Regions from separate parts of the Homo sapiens genome. Here region 1 is linked to region 2. The links come from fine-mapping of genetic effects on plasma protein levels. A gene starts in region 2. The other region holds a variant in brackets. All regions are shown on one strand. Distances are between the middles of the regions.

Region 1 (12,158 bases), 300 kb before region 2:
AAGCACACAACACAGGCCACTGCCAATCCAATCCTCCTACGTGTACAACTGGCTTTGGTATCCAGACTTCAAAACTGAGATGCAGCTGCTATAGCAAGTCTGATTGAAGCCTACATATGTTAGGGAGGCATGCCTGTGTTTTACGCCATTAATACTCAGAAAATAGATTATCTTTTAATCTCAGGAGGGTGCGAGGAAAGCATTCATTGCAGTGTGCTTTTAATAGTGAAAGATTTAAAATAACCAAAATGTCCATCATAAAGAATATAATCTCAAAAATTTAGATCTAAAAAACAAAGAAATTTTATGGTACCTTAATCTTCTTAGTTAAGATTAATGTGCATGAATAATATACACCTTAGGAGAAACAAGACAGTTGTCGAAACTAAAAGATGTGAAGTGGTCATTCAGGAAAGGAAGACTAATACTTGCACATGTTCACACCTACCTTGCTATTGGGTCCAAGACCCAATAGGTGTGAACATGTTCAAACATCTTTCTTGGAACTGAATATAACACTGGAGAATTCACCACCAAGCCTGAAGCAAGATAATATTGCTAAGTAGTTAGTTCTGAAAAGTGAATTAACTAACATAGAATCTAAGAATATTCTAAAAAATAACTGCTGCATAATGTATGGAAATAAAGTTATAGTAACTAATCAACAAGATCTGCTGAAGAGATCAGAGATCCTATTTTTTGATAATGGAACACTGACATAGTATTTTTTATTTGACTTTTAAAAATCAGGCTGGGTGCGGTGGCTCATGCCTGTAATCCCAGTATTTTGGGAGGCTGAGGTGGGTGGATCACTTGAGGTCAGGAGTTCGAGACCAGCCTGGCCAACATGGTGAAACTCTGTCTCTACTAAAAATACAAAAATTAGCTGGGCATGGTGGCAGGCGCCTGTAATCCCAGCTACTAGGGAGACTGAAGCAGGAGAATAGCTTGAACCTGGGAAGCGGAGGTTGCAGTGAGCCAAGGTCGTGCCACTGTACTCCAGCCTCGGTGACAGAGTGAGACTCAGTCTCAAAAACAAACAAACGAAAAAACCCCAGCTTCCTGGGCAATAAGTTTTATCACTCAAATAACTGTTTAGAAGGGTACTAGAACTGAGAGAAACTCTAAGAAACTTAATCCCAGACCAGTTTCACATGGAGGCAAAAACCATTCAATTTGCTTAACTGTAGCTAACTTCACAAATATCATTTTTTAATTGTTAAAAAGAAATTTATAAGATGCTCCAAATGGAACTCTATGAATATGTAATACGTACTTCTACTTAATAACACATGCTGGAAGATAGTAACCTTTAGCAGAGCCAAGATACAGTTTAAATACAGCAGAATTTTGATAGACTCAAAGTAAATCTTAGCTGTGTGTAAAGGGGTCAATGTCCAGCCTGGACTGCAAAGTAGACTGAGAATTGTGTTGTTCGGAAACAATAAAGTTAAGATAGGTATACAATGCTATGTCCAGAAACCCCCCACCCAAAGCACTGCACCTGGGTCGTAAATTGGGGCTGCTTCATTTTTACTGATATAATTGCCAACACCAAAGTTTGTGATGTCTATGGTTTTAGAGAACAATGTTTCTGAGTGAGTAGGAAAGCTGTAGTCACTTGAAGAAGGGGGTTATTATGATACTTTACAGCTGCAGCACGTCCTTAGGAGACATTGCATCCTGTTAACTTTGCAGCTGACTTTATCTGTGCCTATTTTTCTAGCCTGATGAACAGTTGAGCTGATTTTTTACCTTCTCAGTGTGAGCTAATATTTACTTTCTCATGGGCAATCCTAAATGTCAAATACTGTATTGAGTGCTTTACATACATTATTTCATTTAATCTTAGCAACAATCCTTTGAGGCAAGTGCTAGCATCCTATTTTACAGATGGGGACACTGAGTCTTGGAGATGTTGAAGTGGTTTGGCCCAGGTTTCATACAGCTAGTAAGTGACAAACCCATTTCAAACCTGGGTCTCCCTAACTCTAAACCTAGTCTTCTTAACCTCTATCCTTTAAGCAGATGTAGAAATTAAAGATTATTCAAAGTGAAATGGGTAAAATACAGAGCTGGTTATGGGCAAGTGGCAGGCTCATGCACTATGGCTAGGACCACAGATTGAAACAATTTTCTGGAGGCCAGTTTGGTAAATAATGTAGTAAAAAAATTAACATGTACCCTTTGAGCCAACAATTAATCTTCTAGAAATTTAAAGAAAATAATTTCTAAACTGCACGGAGGCATGCATTAGAATTACAGCATGATTTACAAAAATATACAAACAAAAATACAGACAATGTAAACATTTTTAGTAAGGAATTAAATGGCTAAACAGATACACAATGCAAGAGTATTTAACTATTAGGATGAAAATACATTGTACAGTAAAAGGCACCAGATTACTGATGAGCATTTATCATGTGATTTTATTTTATTTATTTTATTTTTTTGAGATGGAGTCTCACTCTGTTGCCCAGGCTGGAGTGCAGTGAGGCGATCTTGGCTCACTGCAGCTTCTGCCTCCTGGGTTCAAATGATTCTCCTGCCTCAGCCTCCTGAGTAGCTGGGATTACAGGCACCCACCACCACACTGAGTAGAGACAGAGTTTCACAATGTTGGCCAGGCTGGTCTTGAACTCCTGACCTCAGGTGATTCGCCTGTCTCGGCCTCCCAAAGTGCTGGGATTACAGGCGTGATTTTATTTTTATGTAAAATTGACTACATATAGTGTATTTATATGTGCAAATATATATAGAGAAAGGTGTGGAAACATGTTTACTATGTTTCTCTCTGGCTTGAAAAAGTTTATTTTTAAACTTTTTGTGCTGTTCTTTATTGACTGAATATTTTGTGAGTCTGTATCAATTATTATAAAACAAAAAACTATTTGAAAAAAAGAATGTCAAAGTTAAATCAATTCTTGCCTCAGTAACTGGAGTAATTTCATGCACACTAGCCATATATTTTATAGAACTGGAAATCTATTATGCTCTGGAGAAAATCCAACAGGTATGTTCTAGATTTTGCCCGTAGAACTAGGCTGTTTCTAGTCCACCAAAGGATTATATTAATTTATGGAAACAATAGGGTTTGGACTAAAACCAGTTCTATCTGGGCTATAAGAGTTAAATGTTGTCTTACATTTTTATTTATAAATATCTTCAAAGCATTTTCATTTAATTGGAGTTAGTCTTCCTTGTTGATTGGCATTGTATTTTGGGAGTAAATAAATTTTAAATAGCTAAGGTAAATGGATTTTAGAGAGGCTACTTGTACAGTCACGAAGTAAATCTAATGAATCTTTTGGCCCTATATTTAGGGTTGCTCGGGTGGATTAGTAAAATGGGCCTGTTTAGTAAAAGTAGATGGAGTCTGAGAGAAGTTGAGTATGACCAGAGAAAAGATTACCAATTGGAGACATAAAAGGGTGTTATAACTGCTTTGACAAGTGATTATGACTTGTAGAGGAAGGAGAAAAAAGTCAAAGAGTTATTATTTAAGAAACATTACCAGGCGCAGTGGCTCATGACTGTAATCCCAGCACTTTGGGAGGCCGAGGCTGGTGGATAACCTGAGGTCAGGAGTTCAAGACCAGCCTGGCCAACACGGCGAAACCCTGTCTCTACTAAAAATACAAAAAATTAGCCGGGCGTGGTGGCGGGTGCCTGTAATCCCAGCTACTCGGGAGGCTGAGGCAGGAGAATCACTTGAACCCAGGAGGCAGAGGCTGCAGTGAGCTGAGATCGCGCCACTGCACTCCAGCCTGGGCGACAAGAGCGAGACTCTGTTTCAACAACAACAAAAAAGAAACAGTACCATTCTAGAAAAGAACTCTCTCTTTAGCATACATGGATGGTTATGGCAATATAAATTAACACCTAAATAATTTGTCATTCAACAAAATCTTAGCACTGTGTGTCTTGAGGATATTTTAAAGTTAATTACGACCCCGGGCTGCAGAGTGGGAGATTGGAAGAAGGAAATTCAGGAGTTGTTTTGTTAACAGTTGAAGCTGTGGAAATAAACAGTCAACCGAAGCCAGAGGAAAGGAAGGAAAAAAATAAAACCTTGAGGATACCAACATTTTTTATGGCCCCGTAAAAAAGGAGCAGCCCAAGAAAAGTGCAAACGAAGGCAAGTTCAGAAATCAGGTAGAGAGACTCATATTGAAGACAAGGGAGGAGAGTTTCAAAAAGGAGGAGTTAGCAGTATCACGTGCTGTAGAAAGGCCACACGACAGTAGGACTGAAGTGGCCACTAGATTTGGCCTTCAGCACTTACTAGAGTCTAGTGGAGACAGGAGTACCTTGCACAAGTGGCTCATTTGTTGGCACCAGAGGCTAGAACAAGGCACTTTCACACAGTCTGCATTGGACTAGATTGGGAAGTAGGCCCTACATTAGGGGACGAAACTCATGAGTGCCCGGGTATTTTCAGCTATTATTGGGGATAGGGACTCTGCGGGTGGCTAGAGGTACTGCTAAGCCAGAGCTCAGGAGATGCACCTAGGGCCCCAGTAGTAGGTCTCCGATAAGAATCAGGGGAATGAATATATAAATGAATGAATATATGAATGCATGTGGGGGTGTGGTCTAGCGATTACTTTATGAGCGTGACAAGGATAGGAAGAGGATGGTGAAAGCATACAGTAGTACCTGCCTGTGAAAGAAGCTGCCCGTCGACTCAGAGAGCTGCCACGGAGATTGGTGTTTTCAAGGCTGTCAGGTTCCCCAGTTGGGAGAAGGGTGGGAAGGGCTTAAGGATTTACAGAGATTGATTTAGGGGAGAACACACAGGAAGCGAAACAGCAGGAAACGCCGGGAGACAGCAGCAGCAGGACAGGATTGAGGAAGGGTAAGAGTGCGAAATGGGGTAAGAATAAAAGAAAGGAATGGACAGATGTATGCTTTACAAGGCACTTCCACGGCGAGTGACTCATTCATGCTTAGGACAACCCAGGGAGAGACATAGGTATATATTGCATTGCCAGCCTTTGGAATGCGGGATGCGGTCCAGATAAGGCCATCGCAGCTCAGAGAGGCTGTTCAGCCGCTGTTCGATTCCTCTGGTGACAAGAACACTCTACTTTTGGAAGTAGCACTTCTATTAGAGAAGTTAAAAAAAAAAAAAAAAGAAAAGGGAGATAAGAAGAAAGGTGTGGGCCCCTTGAGGGGAAAGATCTGTGAATGACAGACATTTTAGATAATTCATGGAATTGCAGAGCCAGAACGGGTCAGGCAGATCTTTTCATCTGTAAAACGAAGGGGGCAGACGATCTTCCTTTTCTCTTGTCTAATAGCCTGTGAAATCATCTAGGCAACCACCTCCCAATTTTACAGAATAAAAAACGAGGCCCGCGGGATATGTCTCGCTCAAAGTAACAGAACGCCCGAGTGGAGGGACAGGCCCGGAGCCGACTCCGCCCCGTCCGCAGGGCCTCTCGCCGCTCCGACACCTTCCCAGAAAGATAAAGAACAGCGGGAGGCGGCAGGCCCGGCGGCCTAGCTGCGAGCGCCCTGGTGTTCGAGGCCGCTTCCCGGCAGCAGTGGGAGGAACGCCCCGAGGGGAGGGCAGGAGAGGGGCGGGGAGGAGTTGAGACGGGCGGGGAAGAGTTCGGGCCTCCTTTCCCACACTTCGTTAGGACGCCGGCTGGGGCGGGCCGGCAGAGGGCGCGGGGCGGTTCCTCGCTCGGCGGGCCCGGCAGGCCCGGCGGGCTGGGGGCGCGCTGTCCCGGGCGCACTGTCGGAGCTCGCGGGCACCGGGTCGCGGCGGCCCGGGCGGCCGGAGCCGGCAGGGGAAGTGCGGCGGGCGGGCAGGCGGGCGGCCGGGAACGGGCGGGGCGGGGCGGGGCGCGAAGGGGGCGGTGCCGCGAGCGGGGGGCGGTGGCGGCGGCGGCGGTGGCGGCCGAGGAGGAGAACATGGCGGCCGCGGAGAGCGGCTGAAATGCCTGTTCTTCAGGCCGGGCGAGCGGGAGTCTGACGCGATTTGCTGAGCTCTGTCCTCCGACGGCTGCCTCGCGGCCTTGAGGGCCTCCGCCGCCTGTTCGCTGCTGCTCCCTCGAGCGGAGCCTGCGTCAGGTTCCCTCTGCATCCCCCTGCGGGGGGACCCCTGCTCCGGAGGAGGGGGCCGGAGAGCCGCGGCGCCGGGCCCGAGGAGCGGCGGAGGCCGGGGCGGCGCCGCCGCCACGGTCGCGGACGAGTGCGGCGCCGGTGAGCGGGGCCCAGAGGCGGCGGCGGCAGGTGAGTGGCGGGCTGCGGGTGCGGAGCCTCCCGGTGGGTGCAGCTGTCACGAGCCGCGCGGCCGCGGAGGCCCTAGGGGGCGGGGAGCAGCTGGCGCCCCTCCGCCCCCTGCTCTCCTTTCTCCCGCTCCATCCTCCTCCCACTTCCCCGAGTTCCCCTCGCGGCCCGGCGCGGCTGGAGGGGGCGGAGGTCGCAGCTGTCACGGGCACCAGCTGGGGGCTGCTCCCCGCCGGGGGAAATCGCTGCAGCAGCGACTTCTCTCCGCCTCTTTTCCAGTTGCCCTAGTTAGCGCGGAGAGGGCGAGCATCCGCGGAGGGGGTGCGAGCTGCGCGGCCGCCTGCCCGGCGTGGGGAGCGGGCGCCCCGGGCCGCCGCCGAGAGGGGGAGCCGGAAGTCGGCGCGGGCGCCCCTCGGCCCCGACGACGCCGTGACCTTGGCCGGCCCGCTCACCTCTCGGAATCTCGCCTGCCGGGACCGCGAAATGGGGGCGACCGCGGCGTCCCTCTCCGTC[G/T]GCGCAGCCCTCGACGGCGCTTGGGTTTGACCCCGGCGCGCTTGCTCGCCCCTTCTCCCGAGAAGGGGTTTCGGAGGTAGACATGGGATGGATACTGGACATGTTCCTGTCGCGGCCCGGGTTTGGTCCCCTTCCTGGGATTCAGCCGAAAGGGCCGAGGAAGGGAAGCAAACATGTTGACGAGGCGATTGGGAGGTGGGGTTGGTTAGTGGGCAGTGACAGAATTCGGGCCGCTCTCTAGTCCCTTGTAAAAGACCTGAAAAAATCGGACACCCAGGGTCTCCAGTCCTTACTACCCAGCTGTGGTGGCTGCTTTTTTATTTTATTTAAAAGCAGTTACCCCCATGGGTAGACACTGCCCAGTCTGACGACGTTAGAGGGAGACGGAGGGGTTGACAATACAGCCTGTGTGTGTGTGACAAGGACAGGCCACGGTGTTGTGTCCGGAGAGTTTCATGGGGAGGAAAACTTTAAGCTGGAGGATCTGTTAGCCTCTCATGCTTGGCCCTCCTCGTTTCTTGTAGAGGTGTTGAACAGGCAGGTGTCCTTGTGCAGAAGGTGACATTTTTTCTTCGGAGACGGTGAGTTTTTAATGTCGAGTGTGATGTTGGTGAGTAAAGGGTTCTTGAGTGAATTGCAGTCCCAGCACCCTCTGTGGATGCCAAGAGGAATCTCTGTGGCGATGATTTGTGAGGGCTGGTGCTTACATTTCAGTGATTAAGAAATCAAGTGTCTGCTTAAAACATTACTGCCGTGAAGCGTAGATTATATGATACAGTTGAGGGATGGATCTCAAGGGTTAAATTTGTTTGAGGTTTGTCTCCTCTTCTGGAATTGGTTGGAGGCTAGTCTCAAAAAAAAAGCAAACAAAACAACAACAATAACAACGAAAGTTGGCCAGAGGGGCCTCCTATGATGTTGTAGGAAGGGGGTCGGATTTCTTCATGTTGAGAATAATGTGAAAAGAAAGTATTTGCTTAGGTCTCTTGGATCTTCAACTAGAAATAGTTTTGGGTTAAAGGTAGCAGTGGGGTTTGATTCAGCTTAACAAATAGGCATTCCTTGAACTATTTGCCATAAATTAGATAAAATGGAAGTGTTTCTGTTTTATCTCCTGTACTTTGTGGAAAGGTCTAATTTGGTTTTGTGAACGAATGTCCGAAATGTTTTATATTTCTTCTTCAGACTCTATGCTTTGGGAACAGTGGGTCACAGAGAGGGTCTGAGTTGGGAATATATGGTTTAGAGAGAAAATAGAGGACTGCTGCTTATAAGAACAGGTGTTTAGTTTGATTTTTGTAGATATTTTCTACTGGTTATTTAACAACATTGAAGTTTGCTTTATAAGGTGCAAAACGTGAATTTTACGTAGCTTACACTTGATCTCTTCCTTATTTCTCTCAGAAAACCTGTAGGATTGTGCCTATTAAATTGCTTTTTGTGTGGTTTAAACCAAGAGAGTATTTTAGATCTGCAGTGGTTTTATTGGAAAAAAAAAAAAAGTGCTTGATGGAGCTAATGGTGATTGTTTCACTTAAACTAGGATTATATAGACAATGCTTCTTCCTGCCTCTTTCTGCGAACATTTGTTTTTGTTTCTCCCTCAATTCCAGGGTTTCATTTCTAGAAATCTGGGCTGCAAACAGAAGCAGCAGTTTGTATAATCCCAAGAACTTGCTTATGCCAGGAAGCTGTAAGGGTAGCATGAAGCGGGTGTGATGTAAAGACACTGCTACTACTTAAGACATTTAACTGTTGAGGGAGTCTAAGGTCAAACTTTAATTTTTGTTGAATTTCCTGTTTTCTGCTTATGTGTTAATCTTTTGGTGGGCAGAAGATTGGGTTGCTATGGTGCTAACTGGTGTATATTGTGAAAGTGCTGGCAACATTTCATGCTTTTACTCTATAGGGAAGGGTGGTAAACAAGCCTAAATAATTTAAAGATGTTGTTCTCAGAATGGAATGTTCTGTGCATGTCTTCTTGATCCTGCTAATCCAGTGAGCGGTCTTCACTAGGACTAAATGTTGAGTAAGTGATGAGGGTGGTATAGAGGTGCTGAAAGGTGGAGTGGTGGAGAGAGGGTATTGGGCATTTTCTTGAAATTCTTTTCCCCAATTCTGTATAGGGAATCTGTATACTAGACTGTGATTTATAATTGTTTTTCAAGGATGTTTTAGTTCTCCCTGCTTGGTTGTCATCAATTTCATATACCTCCTCTTAGATACTACCTCTGTTCCGTACTTTAGTTTGTCTTTTTTGCTGCGTCTCCCAAGGACTCCACATTGTTTGAATGTTATGTTGCATATCTTATGGAGTTGGCTGGCCTTAAGCCATGTGGCTTAACATAGTTTTCATTATAGGGCAGGTGTGGGAGGTCAATACAACGCACAACACGGAGTAAAATCTAAGTCATGGAGCATAGGAGATCCCCGGGACGCTCATGATTGTTTTGGCATTGGTTTTTGCCTTTTAAATATGATTATAACAGAAATTCTCAGAGGACCATCAGCTGCTTTCCTGGCAGAGGTCCAAAAATGTTTTGGAGGGTTCCATTTTGCATTACTTGCAAATATTGGATGCTGTGGTCGGTGTGGGCTCGGGTGAAATCCATGTGTTTCAGGAGGTGGATGTCAGAACACTGTATCTGATCTGGGCTGCAGAACCGTATAAATTTCTCCCTATCTTAGATTAACTTTCCTACCCATTTGGGAAGACTAGACTGTAGGAAAGGACTTTTTAAAATTGCTTCTTTCCCAGATTAGCAGTAGTTTAGCCGTTGGTGATTGGCAACTAAGGATAGGCCTCATGTTCTATTCTTAACATTGAAGATGAGGTCTAGTCATTTAAAACCTTTCCTTTTCTCTTTATATTTTAGTTAGACCTTGTGCCTTTCAACATTTGGTGTCAGAGGTCATAAAATGGCCTAGTGGCAACTAGGTACCAATGTTGGTTGCTTCATTTCATAAGGAGATGAAGGTGTTTTTTTTTTGTTTTTTTTTTTTAATAGCTTAGTTCTGGAAAATGGTTTGTGGGCTATAGTATTTGGATTAATGTATAGAAATGATTATTATATATTTCTGCAGGATACATGGCTGAATAAGGGAAATTATTATAAAACGCTGATACCAACATATAAGTCCAATTCCATAAGTTTAAGTAAAGTGAGTTGTATCCATGCTTCTTCCCCCATAACCCCATCTGCAACACAGAATTTTTGAGGCTCCTTGGAGTGATAGGCTTTTAGAAAAGCTTAGTATGGTTATCATATTTAAAAGATAAGTAGCTTATGCCAAAATAGAAGCTCTAGTCACTCGAGGAGTTATGGAAGACTCACCCTCATCTTGGATATATTTTGTTCTTACCACTCCCCGAGAGTATGTTTTAGTGTGTGGAGGGCAGGGATGTTTGGTTTTACTGAGTAGCCCTGACCTGACCATTAGGCACAGACAGGCCAGACTCATAAAAATAGGTGCAAGCACGGAAGCAAAACGCACCCATTATCAGGACCAGAATTCTAATTGTACTGGATTATCCAGTTTTTCCAGAGTGATGCTTCATTTTTGCCCTTTCAGCTTATAATTGTGGGGCAATTTTAAAGCATCTTTTAGAAAAGAAACTCTGACCAGACAGACAGAGGTGTCCTAGCTCTTCCAGATACTTAGGTTGATGTAGCCTTGAGCTGTTTAACCACACTAAACTTCAGTTTTTATATTTAAAATTGGAGTAACGTACTTGTCCTCATATTGTAATCTTTAAAATTATTAAATGTGTTTAGCATATGATTGGCACATAGACATTAATGACTAACAGGTATTTCATTAGCGAATTCATCACCAAATTCTCGCATTCTTTTCTTTGTAATTTCTCAAATTTTTTCCTTTATTTCTGGTTCTGCAATCTGGTCCTCCTGTCATTTGCACATGGAGTAATGGGAGTCACATTGACTCTGTGGGCCTGAGTTTCTTTATCATTAAATGAGCATGTTGGTCTAATTTCACATTTCTTCTTGTTTTAAAATTCTGTGATTTGTAGGTTTATAGCTGTTTGCTTGCATGCATTTACCTCTCTAATTTGTCCTACACATAATGCTGAAGAAATTCCCTTCTAAAAAAATTTTTTTATGTTATTGTTTTCAGAGGAGATTTTCTGTGGGCAAATTTATCAAATGTAAATCATTTAAACTGATTCTTTCATTTCCCATTCCAGAAAATTTGCTGTAGATGGCATATGCAGAAATACTTCGCAAACTGTAAAGTGCTACGCAATGAAGAAAGTATTATGATAATCATAGATATCTTGCGTCTTTGCTTTTACATGTTCCATTTTCTTCATTTAAATTGGATTTCCTTTATGTTCTCGTGACCTTCAAAAACAGCATCAAAGCTGGTATGTTTTCAAGAAAGCTTGATTTTTATCACTCCCTTAGCATTAGGTACTCTGTTCTGTATAATAAACTTCTCTTTCTCTCTCTTTCTTTTGAGAGAGATTCTCTTTTTAGTGTGTGTTGATTGGTTTTCCTAAACAGATTGGAAAACGCTTGAGATGCCAGGAACTACAACATTTAGAGTTAAAGAGCCTTAAATGATCATTTAGGACAGCCTTCTTAATATTACAGCTGAGCAGACTAAGTCCATGCAGATGTAGTTGGGAATAGGGTTTCTTTATGAGAGTTACTTTTTGTATTTAAAGTTACAATATTACAAAGATATTTTAAATAATAAGAATTCCTGTAAGCTTTTGAGTAATGTGTAAGCTAGGAGGAAAGGAGCATTTTTATTTTTTGACCAAAATATGACTCTCAAATATTGTAAAAAGGTATTAATTAGGAATTAATTAAGACCGTTTTCTCAAAAACTACAAAAGTACCTGTAGAAAAACGTCTGCTTTTCTTGTAAGGCCCTCATTCATAGTCAGCAAATATTTATTGAGTGTTGTCTCTGAGCCAGGTACTGTGCTAGCTCTACATATTACATTTTATAAATGAGGAAACAAGGCTCAGGGAAGTTAAGTGGCTGGCGTAAGATTGCACAGCTTATAGGTGTTAGGGATGACATTTGAGTTCAAGCCTACTGAGTGGAAATCATATTCATACCTTTCAATTGGCTTCTCTTCAAGCATGTTCGTCACACTTGGCCACATTATACTTTTTTTTTTTTCTTTCTGGACTTTCTTTCTCTTGAATACCTGTGTTGTGGAGACTCCTGCAGTCTTGTTCCTTTCTGATGACCCGGGAGCCATATATACCAGTTACTTGATGAAAATGTCACTTTAAGATTCTTGTGGGCTGGGCGTGGTGGCTCACATCTGTAATCCCAGCACTTTCAGAGACCAAGGCAGGCAGATCATGAGGTCAGGAGTTCGAGACCTGGCCAATATGGTGACACCCTGTCTCTACTAAAAA
Region 2 (11,866 bases):
GATGTGTGTGACAGATAAAACCCCCTCTCTACTACAAATACAAAAAATTAGCTGGGCATGGTGGCCGGCACCTGTAATCCCAGCTACTCTGGAGGCTGAGGCAGGAGAATTACTTGAACCCAGAAGGCACGGGTTGCAGTGAGCCAGGATTGCTCCACTGCATTCCAGCCTGGGCAACAAGAGCAAAACTCTTGTCTCAGAAAAAAAAAAAAAAAAAAAAAAGAAAGAAAGAAAAAAGAAATCTATGAAAGCATAGGAGATTGTTTTCAAGGATATAGCGTCTATTCTAGGGTTTGCAGCACATCTTTGCCCTGTTGGAGAAATCATAATTTTCTGTAACCTTAGTATGCATGGCCAAATACAGTGCACTTGGTGCCAGATTTCTGCTATTTGACTCCTTCCTGTGAGCACTTAATACCCTCTCATAATGTGTTGATTCTAAACCACACACATTTATTGTTCCTCTTTTAGGTTGGCTGTCTCCAGGGCCCAGGCTGTTTCTAGGTAGCACTAGAGCCTCCACTTCAGTGGGTCTGGGGTGGGGCCTGATAATTTGCATTTCTAACAAGTACCCAAGTGGTACTGATCTAGGGACCAGACCACCGCTTTGAGAGCCACTGATCTAGTTCAAATGATCATGGTCTTAAGCTGATACCAATAAGAAAATCTATTGCTTTCCTGCTGCTGTCTTGCTCTCACTCAGCGTCAGCGCATGAGTTCCTGTTCTTCCCCACCCTTGGGCAGACATTTATGCTATTTGTGCTCAGATCTCTGCTTTACGGATTTGCCTAAATCTGCTAACTCCCAGCTGTGTCTCATTTCTGTCTAGCTTCTTTTACCCCCAGACAAAGTCTCACTCTGTTGCCCAAGCTGGAGTGCAGTGGTACGATCTCGACTCACTGCAACCTCCACCTCCCAGGTTCAAGAGATTCTACTGCCTCAGCCTCCCGAGCAACTGGGACTACAGGCACGTGCCACCATGCCTGGCTAACTTTTTTTTTTTTTGAGACAGAGTTTCACTCTTGTTGCCCAGGCTGGAGTGCAATGGCGCGATCTCTGGCTCACCGCAATCTCCACCTCCTGGGTTCAAGCAATTCTCCTGCCTCAGTCTCCTGAGCAGCTGGGATTACAGGCCACCACGCCCAGCTAATTTTGTATTTTTAGTAGAGACGGGGTTTCTCCATGTTGGTCAGGGTGGTCTCGAACTCCCAATCTCAGATGATCCGCCCGCCTCGGCCTCCCAAAGTGCTGGGATTACAGGTGTGAGCCACTGCGCCCGGCAATTTTTTTGTATTTTTAGTAGAGACGGGGTATCATTATGTTGGCCAGGCTGGTCTCGAACTCCTGACCTTTTGATCCGCCCATCTCGGCCTCCTGAAGTGCTGGGATTATAGGCGTGAGCCACCCACCGCACCTGGCCTGTCTAGCTTTATACTATGTCTTACTGAAGAATTCAGAACTTAATTTTTTTTAAGATGCAGTGTCATTTAGAAACATTTTCCTAATTGGCTTGAATGGAAATGGTACTTGATGATTCCTGGATGGCATCACTCCCTAACAGAAAGGGGTAGACAATGGCCTACTTGATGGAGAACTCTTGGAGGGCAGCTCTGACGGCTGTGCCATCTGCATCTTCCCAAGTTTAGGTTCTAGCACGAAGTCCCAGGCACTGCTCTAAGGGGTTTGTACATCCAAACACATTTAAATCCCCACTTTACGGATAAGGGAACTGGGTCTCAGGGAAATAGAGTCACTGCCCAAGTCCACAGAGCTTGAAAGTATGAGACCCAGATTTGGACTCAAGCAGTTTGACACCAAAGCCTAGGCTCCTACTCACTGTTATGCTAGCTAATATAGTGCTCAATAAGTTTATTCAGTGTTATGAAAGATCGTATGCCTCCTACTTTTTTAAACTTTTAAGTTCAGGGGTACCTGTGCAGGATGTGCAGGTTTGTTTTATAGGTAAACTTGCGTCATGGGGGTTTGTGGTACAGATTTGATCACTCAGGTATTAAACCTAGAACCCACTGGCTATTTTCCTGATCCACTCCCTCCTCCCACCCTCCAATCAGTCCCCGTGTGTGTTGTTCCCCTCTGTGTGTTCATGTGTTCTCATCATTTAGCTCCCACTTTCAAGTGAGAACATGTGGTATTTGGTTTTCTGTTGCTGCTTTAGTTTGCTGAGTATAGTGCATATGCCTCCTACTTAATAGAAAAAAAGTCAGCAGGTATGGTCAACTTCAACTTTCTTTCTCCTACAATCTATTAAACCTACGTACATCTATATCTTCACCATCTGCCTTTCCACCAGTCTCAGAAAAGAAGTTTCCCCTCTCTCAGTTCAAGGCCAGTTCTTCCCGTAGCCTTTGACCCCATCTCTTCCTGTTTTCTCTGGACTTCATCAGTTATTCTATTTGGGAACTTTAATCTCTTAATCTCTCCTCTCCTTACTTTCTCCTCCTCACCCATCATCCTGCTCAAGATCTAAGAAAATCCCCACTAGGGGACCCAGCATTGATCTTTCCAGCCCCTTTTCAGTCATTATCCTCTCTCTCCTCCCTTTCAAGCTTCTGGAAAGGACACTTCTCACCTCTTACCTCCCTCCCCTCCCATTCTTTTTTTTTTTTTGAGACGGAGTTTTGCTCTTGTCGCTCAGGCTGGCGTGCAGTGGCACGATCTCTACTCACTGCAATCCCTGCCTCCCGGGTTCAAGCAATTCTTCTGCCTCAGCCTCCCGAGTAGCTGGGATTACAGGCGCCTGCCACCACACCCTGCTAATTTTTGTATTTTTAGTAGAGACGGGGTTTCACCATGTTGGCCAGGATGGTCTCGAACTCCTGACCTCGTGATCGCCTGCCTTGGCCTCCCAAAGTGCTGGGATTACAGGTGTGAGCCACCACGCCTGGCCTCCCATTCTTGTCTCAACATGTTACAATCTGATTTCTACCCTCACTATGCTATTTAAACTTCACTAAGTTCACCAGTACATTCCCAATTGCTAAATGTTTCCACGTTTTATTTACTGACATTCTATGCTGCACTTGATTGTTCTCTACCCCTTCAACTCCTCATTCACTTGGCTTCCTGGGGTTGGCTCTGCCCTCAGCACTCTACCAACTCTCCCTGTGAGAGAGACCCATCCACTCTCCTTGATTCAGGTGACCACCTTTCTTAAAGGGAAATCTTTTTTTTTTTTTTTTTTTTTTTTTTTTTTGTAGAGACAGGATTTCACCATGTTGGTCATGCTGGTCTCAAACTCCTGACTTCAGGTGATCCTCCCACCTCAGCCTCCCAAAGTGCTGGGATTATAGGCATGAGCCACTGCACCGGGCCCATGAAGGGAAATCTTATCTGGGATCTTAGCAGAACATTATCTAAGGGGGACGGGTAATATCCGTATAGGTTCTTAGCTACCTGAGGGCAAAACTGTTTTATGCACAGCCTGCCACAGCAGACAAACAATAGATATCTGTTGAACAAATTACCCCTTATAAACTTTGCTTCACAGATGTCTAAGCAATTTCTGTAGATGTGTCCAAATGTTTATAGAAATATTGTAAACGTTGTACAGAGTGTTACAGATGTTCAGAGAAGGAACTATCATTTTTGGCTTGGTAAGAATTTTTGGCAGTGATAGCACTTGAGCTGGAAATAGTTTAAGTAAAGTCCAGGGGCAGGAAAGGGAGGGGAGGAGTAGTAACATTCAACTCCCATGCCAGAGACTGGAGAATAGCAACTGGAGGGACTCTGTGGAAACATCAAGTTTGAATAAGGGAATAGAAGATTCAACTAAAAAGATAAGTAGGAGGCCGGGCACGGTAGCTCACACCTGTAATCCCAGCACTTTGGGAGTCCGAGGCTGGCGGATCACCTGAGGTCAGGAATTGGAGACCAGCTTGGCCAACATGGTGAAACCCCGTCTCTACTAAAAAAACACAAAAATTAGCCAGCTATGGTGGCATGCACCTGTAATCCCAGCTACTCGGGAGGCTGAGGCAGGAGAATGGCTTGAACCCAGGAGGCGCAGGTTGCAGTGAGCAGAGATGGCGCCACTGCACTCCAGCCTGGGCAACAGAGAGAGACTCCATCTCGAAAAAACAAAAAAGATAGGTAGGAAATACACATGAGGAGGGCCTGAAGTCTAAGCTAAGGAGTGCTGGGATTACTCCATAGGCAGAGAGGAGCCTAGACTACACAGGTAGGTGTTCAGTCGTCCTATGTGGTGGCAAAGCAGCTGCTGGATTGGAGTGTCACACTGGCGGTGAACAGACCGTGGGACACGCCAGTGAGCAAAATGAGAGGCTGACACAGGGCAACGGCACTGAAATGACAAGAAAACAGCTGTAGTACTTGACAGATTTCATTGAATCTAATAAATCTGTATGTATGTACATATATATAGACACACACAAATTTTAACTTGTTATTAATCTTTATAGAGACAGTGTCTCACTCTGTTGCCCAGGCTGGAGTGCGGTGGCATGATTAGAACTGACTGTAACCTTGAACTCATGGGCTCAAGCGATCCTCCTGCCTTGGCTTCCCAAAACCCTGGAATTAACAGATGTGAGCCACCACACTGGCCAAATTTTAACATCTTTGTTATTGAAATACAAGTGTTTAATTTGCCGGCATATTTTTTAACAATACATAAAATACTACCGCATCTTAAAGTTGATGTTATCTTAGATTCAATGAAATATGATAACTGGATGTGAATAAGAAGGAATTCAAAAGCAAAGTTTCAAACCCGAGTGACTGGAAGGGAGTTTCCTTGAGCCCCACAGGAGAGTCTAACCAAATCTTCTATTTGAGCAATGATCCCCAGACAATACTGCTCTCCCACCTTCCCCACTTGAACTTATTAATAAGAGGAAGTAGTTATTAATGACAACTTTAATATGAACATGTGCTTAACCCTCAAGAAATTGTCACAACTGAAAGACGGGAGCAAGCTGACACTGCAAGGAACACATGATGCTTTGGAATGGGTGGCCTGCGTATTCAAACACATCAAAGCAGCAGTTACTTGAACAATCGGAACTTCTTCAAATACTGGCCCACTTCTTCCTTGGGGTAGGGCCGGAGAGCAATACAAGTGGCGATATTCTCTGGTTGCTCAAGCCACAGCATGTGGTCAATGTTCTTCTGTTGCAGGGTCTCGGCCAGCTCCTTTAGGGTGGTCTCATCTGGGGCCTAAAGGAGAAGAACACAGAACACAAACTGAATAGCCCACTTAGGAAGTGTCAAAAGGCCAAAAAAGGTTTCGGGAGTCCTCTTGCCTGAAAGTGGAGTAACAGCTTTACCAAGGAGGGAGCTGCAGAGCAATGATGTCATTCCGTGGTGCACTGGGGAGGGGAGAGAGGCTTCATATTCCAGTTTAGAAAATGGAGATTTGTATCTTCCCTTGTGAGATGTTGTATGCCCAACACACACATGTGTAATGTGTAATTCTGCTCTATACATTTTCCAGCTCTCCTATGGCTGGCGCCCATAATTTTAAGTGCCTCTGACTTTAAGAGCTGCCTAGTGGAAGTTTTTTTTTTTTTTTCTTTTGAGACAGAGTCTTGCTCTGTCGCCTGGGCTAGAGTGCAGTGGCACGATTATCAGCTCACTGCAGTCTCTGGCTCCCGAGTTCAAGCAATTCTCCTGCCTCAGCCTCCCGAGTAGCTGGGATTACAGGCGCACACCACTACACCTGGCTAATTTTTGTATTTTTAGTAGAGACGGGGTTTCACCATGTTGCCCAGGCTGGTCTGGAGCTCCTGACCTCAAGCAATCCACCCACCTAAGCCTCCCAAAGTGCTAGGATTACAGGAGTGAGCCACCATGCCCGGCCCCTAGTGGAAGGATTTCTAAAAGCACATCCACTTCCACTTTCCTCCACCCCTCCCACTCTACCTCACTGAAACCTAGAGGGGTTTTCCTTCTGCTGGGATGGCTCCCACTTGTTTATTAAAGGGAGAGTACAATATTCTCTAACATCCTTCTGAAATTGTTTCTGGGTCATCCTTACTGCCAATTCACCCATGCTGAATCCCATTCCAGGAAGTATTAAAACGATCACTCAGAAAATTATTATTTTTGTGTTATTTTGCATAAAGTTTATCTCTTACCTATGAAGGCAGAAGCCACTAAGCTACTCAGAGGCTTGTTTTAATAAATTAGAGAATGCCAGTATTGCGACTCTTAACCTGCTGAGTCCTTCTGGCAGAGCTCTGCTGGAGGACTCATCAGCTTCTTCAGCCTCGGGCAGCAGCAGAGCATAGTGAGATACAGTGAGGCTCTGGAATCAGACTACTGGACTCCAAACTCTTGCTGACTGTGTGATCGTGGATAAGTTAGGTGACTTCGCTGGCCTCTTCGTCCCTTTATAAAACAGGAATAATGCTTCCTAATGGGGATCAATGAAATCAGGCTTGGACCTGTGCCTGGCACACACTAAGCACTCAATAAATGTAGTTAATCCTGGTATTTTCTTATATTTTATTGGCCCTTCTGACTACAGCGGCACCTCAATGTAATCAGTAGCGACTCCTAAGTCCCTTTCTTGAGTCATGACTAACAACTAAGAATCATGAGACCCTCTTTTAAACTCAGGGGAGTCACTTAATCCCTGTAGGCTTCAGAGAGTTTCACCTGCGACAAGAGGAGTCTAACCTGATTTCTTGAGACCTCTTACTAGGAAGAAAATCTAAGTGAAAAGCCAGCAGCTTCTGTTCTGCCTACACAGATTCTCAAGGCATTTTTCCTACAGGTTACCGCTTGATGTTTCACTATCCAGCAGCAATTTTTCTCTTGAAAGATAATCTATCTTTGTCAGTTACCCATGAAGGGATTACTCCACCCCTCCACCTGAGTTCTGGCTTAAAGCCGTTTTTCCTTATTATAAAAAGCCGTTTATTATTAAAGCCGTTTTTCCTTATTATAAAATATGTGCTTAAGGTAGAAAATTTTAAAAATACAGATTAAGCATTAGGAAATAACCAAAATCTCACCATGCACTACTTAATATGTAGATGTATTTCTTTAGTTTTTCCTTTCAAAGTCTGGATCATTCTGTATATATAGTTCAGTTAGCTTCGCATCATGAGCACTCTTCCCGACCACTAAATATGCTTCAAAACCATAAGGGCTCCCATGAATATCCTTGTGCAAAGCTCTTTGGGTGCATCTGATTATTTTCTTAGGCTACATCTCTAGCAGCAGGATAGAGAGTCAAAGGGTAAGGGTGAGATTTGTTTGGTCATCTGCAAACAGAACCTGACTGCTATTTTAAAAGGTGTACCGATTTACACACCTGGTGCCTGGTCTAGCTGAAGCTAGGTTCAATTTATACTAACGTTTTTAGTATTTATTTTCAAATAATTTGGCGTCCTACCCAGGTAAATACTCAGTTTGACTTCACTTTGCACTGTCCCTTCGGGCTCGGTTTTGCAGGAGGACAGCACTTTGGGGCATGGCTTTAAAAAGTCGGCCAGTGCACAGGCGGAACAGCGGGGACACAGGAGCCACCACTTTACCGCGAGCCCAGCAGGGGGCGGAGGACTGCTGTCCACTCTTCACACAGTCAGGCCCTTCCCAAGGGCGCACCTCCAGGGAAACAGCTCCAGTCTAAATGTTAACGATCACCCCAACTCCCGCCGCACCCACTCCCCGCAGCCAGGCCTTCGGACCGAAGACCACACCCACTTCCGCCCTCGATGTCTCAGCACCTCCCCCTCCGCCCGAGTGCCTCACCTCGAGGACCACTTTGCGCATGCGCCCCAGCTCTTGGAGGTAAGCGGCTGTGTGCGGGTGGTCGCGGTGAGTGTGCAAGGCCGCGGTGGCCGCGTGACAAGCCTGCGCTACCAGTGCGCCCGCCGGCCAGGAGAACGGAGCTTGTGATAGATCCTTTCGTAACACCAAGTATTGTACCAGGACCTGCGGCTCCGCCCCAGAGGCCGCCATCTTCCTGACCACCCGAAAGGCCGGACCTACTCCCCGGTGCATCTTGGGATCAGGGCGGGGCCCTGAGCGCCGCCATGCTTTTGTACGGCAGGATCGCAAAGCACGCCGGGACCGGTTGGTTTGGTTTTGAAGACGTGGATGGCGGGAATTCTCGCTTCTGGCCTGGGTGAGCTAGAAGGGAGAAGGTAGGGGAAAGACCCATTGTCGGACCGGACCGTGGCCAGGGTGGCGGGCTGAACGGCCTTCTTAAAACTCCTTCCGTGGCCGGGAAGCCCGCTGGACCAGAGTAGCCGTGGCCTCGGGAGCGCGCCGGGGCCGCGGGATGGGCGCGGGGGTGGGCATGGACTCTGCTGGCTCGGACGATGGGAGAGGGCGGGCGGCTCAGGAAAGGGGATCCTAGCCGTGACATTTGTGTCATCCGCGGCCCAGGGGTTGTGCCTGAGTGGTGTGTGCCCTGCCGTCTGGGTTTGAATGGGACTAGATGTGATGTGACTGTTGCCATTTTTCTTTTATTAGCAAGGACATTGGAGTCCCTATCACCGGTTGCCTAGACAACTTCATGGGAAGGCCCTTGGGAATCTGAGATGGAGCAGGCGAACCCTTTACGTCCAGATGGCGAGTCCAAAGGAGGTATTCAGAGGGTCGCCGCCTCCTTCCTGCTGCTGCCCAAAGATGACCCGCAGGCTGAGAGAGCCCTTTCCTCCTGGAACTGACGTGGGACCTGGCCTGTTTGGGAGCAGAATAGTGAAAGGAACTAACATTGAAGACAAAGGGACAGGCAGCCAAGATTATTCGAGGAGGAAAAATGGCTTCGTTTCTAGGCTCCCACCCCTTTTGAAACGGATAAGTTGCATCCATCATATGCTCAGTGTTTATATTCTGAACTGCGGTTCTAGCCAGGGAGGTCCCTTTCCTCTCCCCGGATTTTTTGGGCCATGTATGCATTACTCTTGAGGGAGGGCCAGTGTAGGGCAGTGACTTTAGTGTTGGCTAGAACTGGTTTTGAGTGTTGGCTCTGCCATGATAAATATTGTGACCTTAGGCAAGTCACTTTATTCTCTGCCTCTGTTTCTTCATCTGGAAAATGGAGGTGAAAATAGCACTGTAGTTGTGGTTGTGGAAAAAGTATTTCTTTTGTGGTGGAAAAGTATTGAACTCAGACTTTTCAAGTGAAGCATTTAGCACATGTCTAATATATAGGAAATATTCAATGAAAGGCTTAATTCTTTACATACTTTGTGTCTTAAAATGTAGAAGGTGTTTAAAGAATGCTTGTTAGAGTTGCTTAGAATTACGAAACTATTACTTTTACTTAGTCCTTAGTCAATCCTTTGGAAACTGAGATTTGCGTTTGAATTTCTGTCCAGGAGTAAGTTGCTTTCTTCTTTAGTGCCTAGTAATATTTGTGGACAGTTCTGGTTTTGTGTGACTTTATGTTCTTTGCTACTAATACTTTTTAGAACTTTGAAATACTTACTCAAGCCTGATGCCTAAATCCAAAGGGTTCTACGTTAGTACTTTGGGAAAGCTTGCCATAAAACCTAACTTAAATTACAGTTTTAAAAAGAATTTCTGAGCGCGTCAGTGAATTTGGTTATCCTATTTTTCTCTGGGTCATCATTATCATTGATAACAGAGAAGTAACTATATTCAGCCTAAGATGACTTAAGCTGAGACTTTAGATAATAAAAGTATATGGGGTAAGATTTATTGTTACTTTAAGACTAAAAATAAGTTTGGTGACTTTATGTAGTGGAAACATGCTACACTCAGGAGTAACCTGTTCTCTAGTCCAGGCCTTATTTCATTTCTGTTAAAGTAAGTGATGAGGTGGAAGTTTTGGATTATCAAGAGACTTAGACCAGTCTCCTTATTCTCTACCCAAAACAATATTTAAACACTTAGCTGTTACCCATACTGGTTTTATCCCTCTGCTTGTTTGATTTCAGTTTTTTGCTTATTATTTGAATTCTCCCCACTCATTTGAGAAGGAAGGACATGGAGTTGTAGTTGCAACCAGATGATTTATTCAAATAGGCAGGGATTTTGACTTTTTTTGGGACAAAGCTGACTGGCTAGGATGAGATGCAATCATAACTTCCAAGGTAAAGCAGGCCCAGCAGATACACTCCCTCTTTTCTGTAGTAGCAACGCTAAACAACAACGCTACCCCCTTGGTGTAGAGGGAATCAGGTCGGTAAAGAAGCTGGGCAGGTTTGAGAGCCTGAGAAGAGGGCTGTGTGGAAGTGCCTAGAGAAGGAGCAGCATGATACTGTTTTGAACACCTACTTATCTCAGAAACTTTGGGAATATTGATATCTACTGTTTTAGTAATATAGAATTTCCATAAAGTAGAATTTGGTGAGGCGTCTCCTCTACCACCCTAAATTATTCTATGTGTGCGTGCTTTTCAGATCACCTCCTGGTTGGACATTAATTTTTGTAAGCTCCGTGAGGACAGGGACTTCGTTTTGCCACCACAGTATGAATAACTTCCAGCACGGTCCTTGGTCCATAGTAAATTCTCAATGCATAGTTGTTGGATAAATAGAGATTGGTGAATAAAGCAGTTAATCACGTGCTAATTATTAGGACTAATTTATTTAATTAGAATTTTGGTTTCTCACGATTATTATTGCGGTAATGTGGGTTTTTCTGTGGACATGAGCCAAGTGAATGTAATCTCCAAGAGTGTCATGCCTGGTTGTCCGTGTTTCGGTAAACATTTCCGGAGTGTTGGCCGGGCGCGGTGGCTCACACCTGTAATCCCAGCACTTTGGGAGGCCAAAGCGGGTGGATCACAAGGTCAGGAGTTCAAGACCAGTCTGGCTAACATAGTGAAACCCCATCTCTACTAAAAATACAAAAATTAGCCGGGCATCGTGGTGCATGCCTGTAGTCCCAGCTAATTGGGAGGCTGAAGCAGGAGAATTGCTTGAACCTGGGAGGTAGAGGTTGCAGTGAGCTGAGATCGCGCCACTGCACTCCAGCTTGGGCAACAGAGTGAGATTTCGTCTCAGAAAAAAATAACCATTTCCGGAGTGTTTACCATGTGTAAACACTTTGTGCTAGGGTTAAGGGATCCATGGGTGAACACAAATGCACACGGTCCCTGATTTTGGAACTTTAAGGTTCAGTGGAAAAGATAAGCAAATCAAATAATCACACTAATGAATATACAATTAAAACTATAGTGGCCGGGTGCGGTGGCTCACGCCTGTAATCCTAGCACTTTGGGAAGCCGAGGTGGGAGGATCGCTTGAGCTTAGGAGTTTGAGACCAGCCTGGGAAACATAGTGAGACCCCATCTCTTTATTTAAAAAACAAAAACAAAAAAACTATAGTATTGTCTCAGAAGGATCTTTGAGAGCTTATGAGCTGGCACCTGACCTTGTTCTGAAGGTGCTACAAAGGTTTCCCTGAGGAAATGCTGCTTGCATTGAGTGCTAACGAGCTAGAGTAGCTGCAGGTGAAGGTGGATAAGGGGCGGCTGTGGAAGAGCCTTTGGTGTGTGTGTTGGGGGTGGGGGGATCAGGTCAGTAAAGACGCTGGGCGGGTTTGAGAGCCTGAGAGGAGGCCTGTGTGGAAATGCCTAGAGAAGGAGCAGCATGATACTGATGAGGGTAAGAGAGATCCAGAGGCCAGTAGGCCTCGTAGGCAGTGTGAAGTCATCGAAAGGCTTTAGCCAGCTGGATGACACGATCCAGTTTAGATTTTGAAATATGGCTTCAGTGTATGGGCCACCTAGGAAACTTGTAATAGGCCAGAAATGGTAGTAGCTTGAACTACAATGGTGGCATTGCAGATGGGGAAAATGGAAATATTTTAGAGATACTAGGAATGTATATTCAATAGGATCTGGTAATGGATTGGGACTGGGTCAGGGAGAAGGTGTGAGGAAGAAAGTACTGGTTTA

Alleles and levels. Alleles are on the strand shown, and positions count from the first base shown. The strength of an association depends on the size of the effect and on how common the allele is.
With allele T in place of G in region 1, the plasma level of the protein whose gene starts at base 8,006 in region 2 is lower (weak association).

Evidence for each region. PIP is the chance, under the fine-mapping model, that this variant and not a neighbour inherited with it causes the effect. Protein levels are from antibody-based Olink assays in UK Biobank. Linkage for the fine-mapping came from a reference panel and not from the study's own genotypes, which makes the PIPs less certain.
Region 1: its variant is fine-mapped to the plasma level of the PTRHD1 protein (UK Biobank, PIP above 0.99).

The regions. Positions count from the first base shown.
Region 1 is chr2:24,485,357-24,497,514 of GRCh38, forward strand. NCOA1 (nuclear receptor coactivator 1) reads left to right here and starts at 5,898. Exons shown (of 23, transcript NM_003743.5): 1 at 5,898-6,246. RefSeq lists silencers at 5,551-5,890, 5,868-6,026, 6,181-6,670. The variant G/T (reference allele first, on the strand shown) is at 6,757.
Region 2 is chr2:24,785,386-24,797,251 of GRCh38, forward strand. It overlaps PTRHD1 (peptidyl-tRNA hydrolase domain containing 1), which reads right to left and starts at 8,006. Exons shown (of 2, transcript NM_001013663.2): 1 at 7,741-8,006; 2 at 4,343-5,196. The coding sequence starts at 7,992. The coding sequence ends at 5,026. CENPO (centromere protein O) reads left to right here and starts at 8,040. Exons shown (of 8, transcript NM_001322101.2): 1 at 8,040-8,116; 2 at 8,467-8,580. The coding sequence starts at 8,535. It overlaps LOC105369164 (a long non-coding RNA gene), which reads right to left and starts at 7,690. Exons shown (of 3, transcript XR_939843.4): 1 at 7,382-7,690; 2 at 6,999-7,199; 3 at 5,207-6,394. RefSeq lists a silencer at 5,826-5,905 and an enhancer at 7,667-8,096.